2 separate regions of the Homo sapiens genome follow, and region 2 is linked to region 1. The links come from fine-mapping of genetic effects on gene expression. A gene starts in region 1. The other region holds a variant in brackets. All regions are shown on one strand. Distances are between the middles of the regions. Region 1 holds the start of LSM7 (LSM7 homolog, U6 small nuclear RNA and mRNA degradation associated). Region 2 has its middle 49 kb from the start of TCF3.

What was found. PIP is the estimated chance that this variant, and not a neighbour inherited with it, causes the effect.
Region 2: its variant is fine-mapped to the expression of LSM7 in substantia nigra (GTEx, PIP 0.98).

Annotation. Positions count from the first base shown.
Region 1 is chr19:2,327,055-2,329,955 of GRCh38, reverse strand. LSM7 (LSM7 homolog, U6 small nuclear RNA and mRNA degradation associated) reads left to right here and starts at 1,370. Exons shown (of 4, transcript NM_016199.3): 1 at 1,370-1,395; 2 at 1,479-1,569. The coding sequence starts at 1,390. SPPL2B (signal peptide peptidase like 2B) reads right to left here and starts at 1,272. Exons shown (of 15, transcript NM_152988.3): 1 at 1,181-1,272. The coding sequence starts at 1,246. RefSeq lists silencers at 986-1,245, 2,266-2,365 and enhancers at 1,456-1,505, 1,516-1,565, 1,001-1,655, 1,936-1,995.
Region 2 is chr19:1,700,400-1,703,300 of GRCh38, reverse strand. No RefSeq gene overlaps it. Among named protein-coding and RNA genes, the nearest start is that of TCF3, 49 kb to the right of the region's middle. The variant G/A (reference allele first, on the strand shown) is at 1,769.

The sequences.
Region 1 (2,901 bases):
GAGCAGCTGGGGGTAGGACTGGGGTTCTCAGAAAGCTTCCGAGGGGGCCCGACAGCCTTGCAGAGACCAGGGGCATCTCAGGGTAAGAGAAAAGACTAGAGAGTGAAGCGACTGCAATGAGCTGCAGGCTTCCCCAGCAGCCAGGTCACAACTGGACGGCGCACTCATCTGGATGCGACACGGTCTGACATACTTTGAAAGGGTCACCCCTGCTGTGTCGAGGATGGACTGGGGATGTGGTGGACAAAGGCAGCCACAGCAGAGGGATAGCGGTGGGGCTGGAGGAGTGGAGACTGAGGAGCCAGGTGGCGGCGACGCCTTAAGAGTGAGAACTCTGAGGGGGTAGTGAAGGTTAAGGGCTGCATTTGTGGGGCTGCTCCAGGTTCCATTGCCTGAGCCACCGAACTCAGGAGAGAGGGAAGATTTGGAATTAAGAAAATAAAAGATGCAGTTATGACAGTGCGATCTCGTAGACTGTCCCCACTAGAACCTGACACTCTTTACATCAAATGACACACAATGAACATAATGAAGGCCTGTTGGCCCTGGGCGCTGGTCACCCTGGACAGAACCTCCAGAATCCACACCATAGTCGGTCCTCCTTCTGCACACGAATTCCATCGTCCAAGGTCACGGAGTAAAAGATGGAGCGGGGATCCGACCCCAGTGCAGGGCTGGACTCCTGGCCGCTCCAGGATGCTGCCAGTTACTGGGGGACGCGCGGGACGCCTCTGGGTTCCCCCACCGCACCCCCTAGGGTGAGGTTAGCTTAGCACCGTGCCCGTTCCGCCTAAGGGGAAACTGAGGCTCGGAGAGGGGTGGGCAGCCGCCTGCTCAAGGCCACAGAGCCGGAGAGAGGCGTCCCCGGCGGCAACTGGAGACCCCGAAACGGAGAAGCAGAACCGGAGGATGGAGGGGGCACAAATTTCAGACCCGGTGGGAAGTGAGTGGCGCTGCAGCGGCGGAGGGCCTCCGAGGCGGGGAAAGGAGAGGAGCCGGGGACAGACCCGCAAGGTCACGGCCGAGCCCCGGCACCGCCGGCCGACAACGCGGGGACGGCGGATCCCCGAGGCTGGACCCCCAAGACGGGCCGAGCGGGGTCGTTCCTGCGCGTAGCCCGGGGACAGAGAGGCCGAAGGGCCGCAGCCCGCGGTGCCGTCGGGACCGGTGCCGCGCTCACCTGGGCCGCGAGGAGCAGAAAGGCCGCCAAAAGCCGCGCCAGCGCAGCCGCCACCGCTGCCGCCATGTCGGCCGGTGCCCGCCGCAACCAACGGCAGATGTTTCCCAGCAACGCCCCGAGACCCCGGGCCACGCATGCGCCGCGCATGCGCGTGGGGGAGGTCAAAGGGCGCGGGGCGGTGCCTGCGAAGAGCCACACGGCGCGACAAGATGGCGGTGAGCGCGCGGCGGAATCTGGAGCCGGGGGGCGTGGAGCTCGGGCCGCGCTCCAGGTCTCATGCGCTCTGCTTTCCCCGCAGGATAAGGAGAAGAAGAAAAAGGAGAGCATCTTGGACTTGTCCAAGTACATCGACAAGACGATCCGGGTAAAGTTCCAGGGAGGCCGCGAAGGTGAGGAGGCTCCCGCTGTCGGTACCCCCTCTTTAAAAATTTCAAATAAACCCAGCAACAGAGATGATGAGGACGCATGCGGAAGCACCTCTTTTATTTATTTTCATTATTTTTTTTGAGACGCAGTCTCGCTCTGTCACCCGGGCTGGAGTGCAGTGGTGCGATCTCAGCTCACTGCAACCTCCGCCTCCCAGGTTCAAGTGATTCTTGTGCCTCAGCCTCCCGAGTAGCTGGAATTAATGTGTACCACCACGCCCGGCTAATATTTGTATTTTTAGTAGAGAGGCCATGTTGGCCAGGATGGTCTCAAACTCCTGGCCTCAAGCGATCTGCCTGCCTCAGCCCCCTAAATTGCTGGGATTTCAGGCATGAGCCACCATGCCCAGCCTAGCATTTTTGACTGGGCAAGTGAGCTGCCTTCTCCTAGCCTCCGTTTCCTCATTTGTCAAATGGGGCTGGTAACTCCACCCACTTCACAGGGGGTGGTGAGAATGAATGGTTACAGGCATGTAATGTAATTGAGGCAGCTCTCAGCAGGAAGTAAGCAGTCAGACAACACGTCACTTATTCAATAGCCTCTTGGATCTTTGGTTTCTTTTTTTTGTAAGACGGGGACCCAAACCTCTTTGTCCCTGGATTGTAGACAACTGGGTGGCATGAGAGTTATTAAAAATCACAGTGCCCCAGCCGGACGGGGCGGCTCACGTGTGTAATCCCAGCAATTTGGGAGTCTGAAGCAGGAGGGTGGCTTCACCCTAGGGTTTGAGGCTGCAGTGAGCTATGACCGCACCACTGCACTCCAGCCTGGGCCACAGAGCAAGGCCCAGTCTCAAAAGAGAAAAAGGAGGCCAGGCACAGTGGCTCATGCCTTTAATCTTGACACTTTGGGAGGCCGAGGCAGGCAGATCAGGAGGTCAGGAGATCAAGACCATCCTGGCCTACGTGGTGAAACCCTGTCTCTACTAAAATACAAAAAGTTAGCTGGGCATGGTGGCGCACGCTTGTAGTCCCAGCTACTCGGGGGGCTGAGGCAGGAGAATTGCTTGAACCCCAGAGGCGAGATTGTGCCACCGCACTCCAGCCTGGCGATAGGGCAAGACTCCGTCTCAAAACAAAAAGAAAAAGGAATATGAATAAAATGTTTTCTCAGTCTACACCATGCTGACTCCGGACATGGAAGGACATGAGTGAGCGGCCGCTCTTGCTGGTCACACTGCTTCCCTTTGTTTTCTGCCCTTCATAGCAAATCACCCATTTAGCAGCTGAAACAGCACCATTTTATTATCTCACAGGATCTGTGAGTCAGGAGCCAGGGTACCACAGCCTCAAGGG
Region 2 (2,901 bases), 630 kb after region 1:
ATATATATAACAACTCCCATTATTGGCATGGATGAGAGTAAATGAACAGGCTGATGTACAATGGAAGGATATGTATTTTATGAAGTTTCAGAGATAATTTGATAAAATGTATCAAAAGCCTTACTATTTGTTTTATGGTCTCTTGACAAGCAACTCCAGGATGAATTTGTCCTGAAGAAAAACTTCAGAGAGTGTAAGAGATTCATGTCCAAGGATGCTCATTGTTGCGCCTTTTCTTTTCTAAAAAAAATTTTCGGCCAGGTGCAGTGGCTCATGCCTGTAATCCCAGCACTTTGGGAGGCCGAGGTCAGGAGTTCGAGACCAGCCTGGCCAATATGGTGAAACCCCGTCTCTACAAAAATACAAAAATTAGCTGGGCATGGTGGCGAGCGCCTTTAATCCCATCTACTCGGGAGGCTGAGGCAGGAGAATCGCTTGAACCCGGGAGGCAGAGGTTGCAATGAGCCGAGATCATGCCACTGCACTCCAGCCTGGGCGAACAGAATGAGACTCCGTCTCAAAAAAAAAAAAAAAAACAAAACAAAACTTCTGGAGATGGGGCCTTGCTACGTTGGCCAGGGTGGTCTCGAACTCCTGAGCTCAAGCAATTCTCCCACCTTGGCCTCCCAAAGCGCTGTGATTATACGCATGAGCCACTGCGCCTGGCCTGTGGTGTCTTCTTCTCTTCTCTTCTCTTTTCTCTTCTCTTCTCTTCTCTTCTCTTCTCTTCTCTTCTCTTCTCTTCTCTTCTCTTCTCTTCTCTTCCTCTTCTTCTCTTCTCTTCTCTTCTCTTCTCTTCTCTTCTCTTCTCTTCTCTTCTCTTCTCTTCTCTTTAGATACAGGGTTTCCGTCTGTCGCCCAGACTGGAATGCGGTGGTGTGATCTCAGCTCACTGCAGCCTCAACCTCCAGGCTCAAGCGATCCTCCCGCTTCAACCTCCTGAGTAGCTGGGTTTATAGACAAGAGCCACTGTGCCTCGCCCAAGGTAACAAGTGAAAATTGTAGACATTTTGGAAAATACTGATACTGCAGCTGGATTTGAATTTCCACCCCACCTTCACTCAATTGTTCTTGCCATTTAAGTACAGTTTCCTAGTTATTTTGTTTGTTTTCTGTTTTTTTTTTTTTTTTGAGATGGAGTCTCGCTGTGTTGCCCAGGCTGGGGTGCAGTGGTGTGGTCTCGGCTCACTGCAACCTCCATCTCCCGGGTTCAAGCGATTCTCCTGCCTCAGCCTTCTGAGTAGCTGGAATTACAGGTGCACACCACCACGCCCAGCTAATTTTTGTATTTTTAGTAGAGACGGGGTTTCACCGTGTTGGCCAGGTTGGTCTTGAACAGACTGGTCTCGAACTCCTGACCTCAGGTGATCCACCCACCTAGGCCTCCCAAAGCGCCGGGATGACAGGTGTGAGCGACCGTGCCCAGCCCAGTTTCCTAGTTCTTGTACTGCAAGTGTCTTGGCCGTTAAGGGGCCCTTGCCTGTCTCCAGGAAATGGTGTTGTTTCCTCAAACTCACCCCCACTTTGCAGACGAGAGCCCTGAGGCTCCAGGGTCCCACTGTGAGGGACACTCCAACCTGGGAGGGTGTGACTCCCCCCGCACAGTGCTCTTTCCACCACCTGAGGCTGTGGATTCCGGCCGGGGGGCTGGGGAAAGGAGGGGAGACTGCTTTCATCTGCCCACTGGCGAGGGACCCCACCTCACAGCCGGTGAGGGGCCAACCAACCCGTGCCAGGAAGTGGGCCATGGCGGGAAGTCTGTGGGGCC[G/A]GGACCCGCCCGGAATACAGACGCAGCTGCAGCGTCGGAGTGGCCCAAATCGGATTCTCCGGGGAAATCTGAAGCCTCTGATGTGTGGGGAAGGTTCAAACTTGAACAAAGGCTGGGTGGACAGGAGACTCGGCCAGGGCCGGGCGGGGGCCAGGAGCCACGGGGGTGATCCTGAGTCTGCCCGTCCTCAGCTGTGATGGGGGCTCCCCAGGGCACCTTCTGGGGGAGATCTCAGGTCCTGCTTTGGGTTCTGTGATGGAGAGGGGGGAGCAAAGAGAGAGAGGGAGGAGGAGAGAGGGAGACAGAGAGACAGAGAATGAGATAGAGACAGAGAGAGAGAGAGGCAGAGACAGAGAGACAGAGACAGACACAGAGACAGAGAGAAAGATAGAGGCAGAGAGAGACACAGAGAGACAGAGAAAGAGACAGAAAAAGACAGAGACACAGACAGAGAGAGGCAGAGAGTGAAATAGAGAAGAGATAGAGACAGAGAGAGACACAGAGAGACAGAAACAGAGATAGAGGCAGAGAGAGACAGAGAGTCAAAGACAGAGATAGAGAGATAGGAAGAGACACAATCAGAGAGAGGCAGAAACAGAGAGACAGAGAGACAAAAAGACACAGAGACAGAGGCAGAAGAAATGGAAACTAAGAGGGAGAGACAGAGACCCACAGAGACATAGAGAGACACGGAGAGATAGAGAGAGACGGAGAGCGCGCAGGAGCCAGGGACACCGGTGGGCTGCAGATGCTCCCGCCCGTCTGCACCTCTGGCCCCAGTTCTGGCTGCCCCGCACCCAGCCCCCACCCCACAGCAAGAGGAGAGAAGCCCCAGCGGCCGCCTCGGCTATCGATCGTCCTTGGTTGCTGCGGCTGGAGCAGGCGGGGATCAGGGTGGCCTCATCTCCCTCGGCAGCAGCCACAACGCCGGGAGACCCAGCCCAGAGACCCCAACACCTGCGGGCCGGCGGCGGGGGCCAGGAGGAGTCACGTCCCATCTCTGCCCCTTGGGAATACGGATGGGGGTCAAGATCTGGGCACCCCCACCCCAACCCACGGGTCTGCCCCAGGCACCGTCTCAGCCTCTGACCCCCTGAAAGGTGTGCATGGAGTATCCTTCCTGCCCCAGGTTC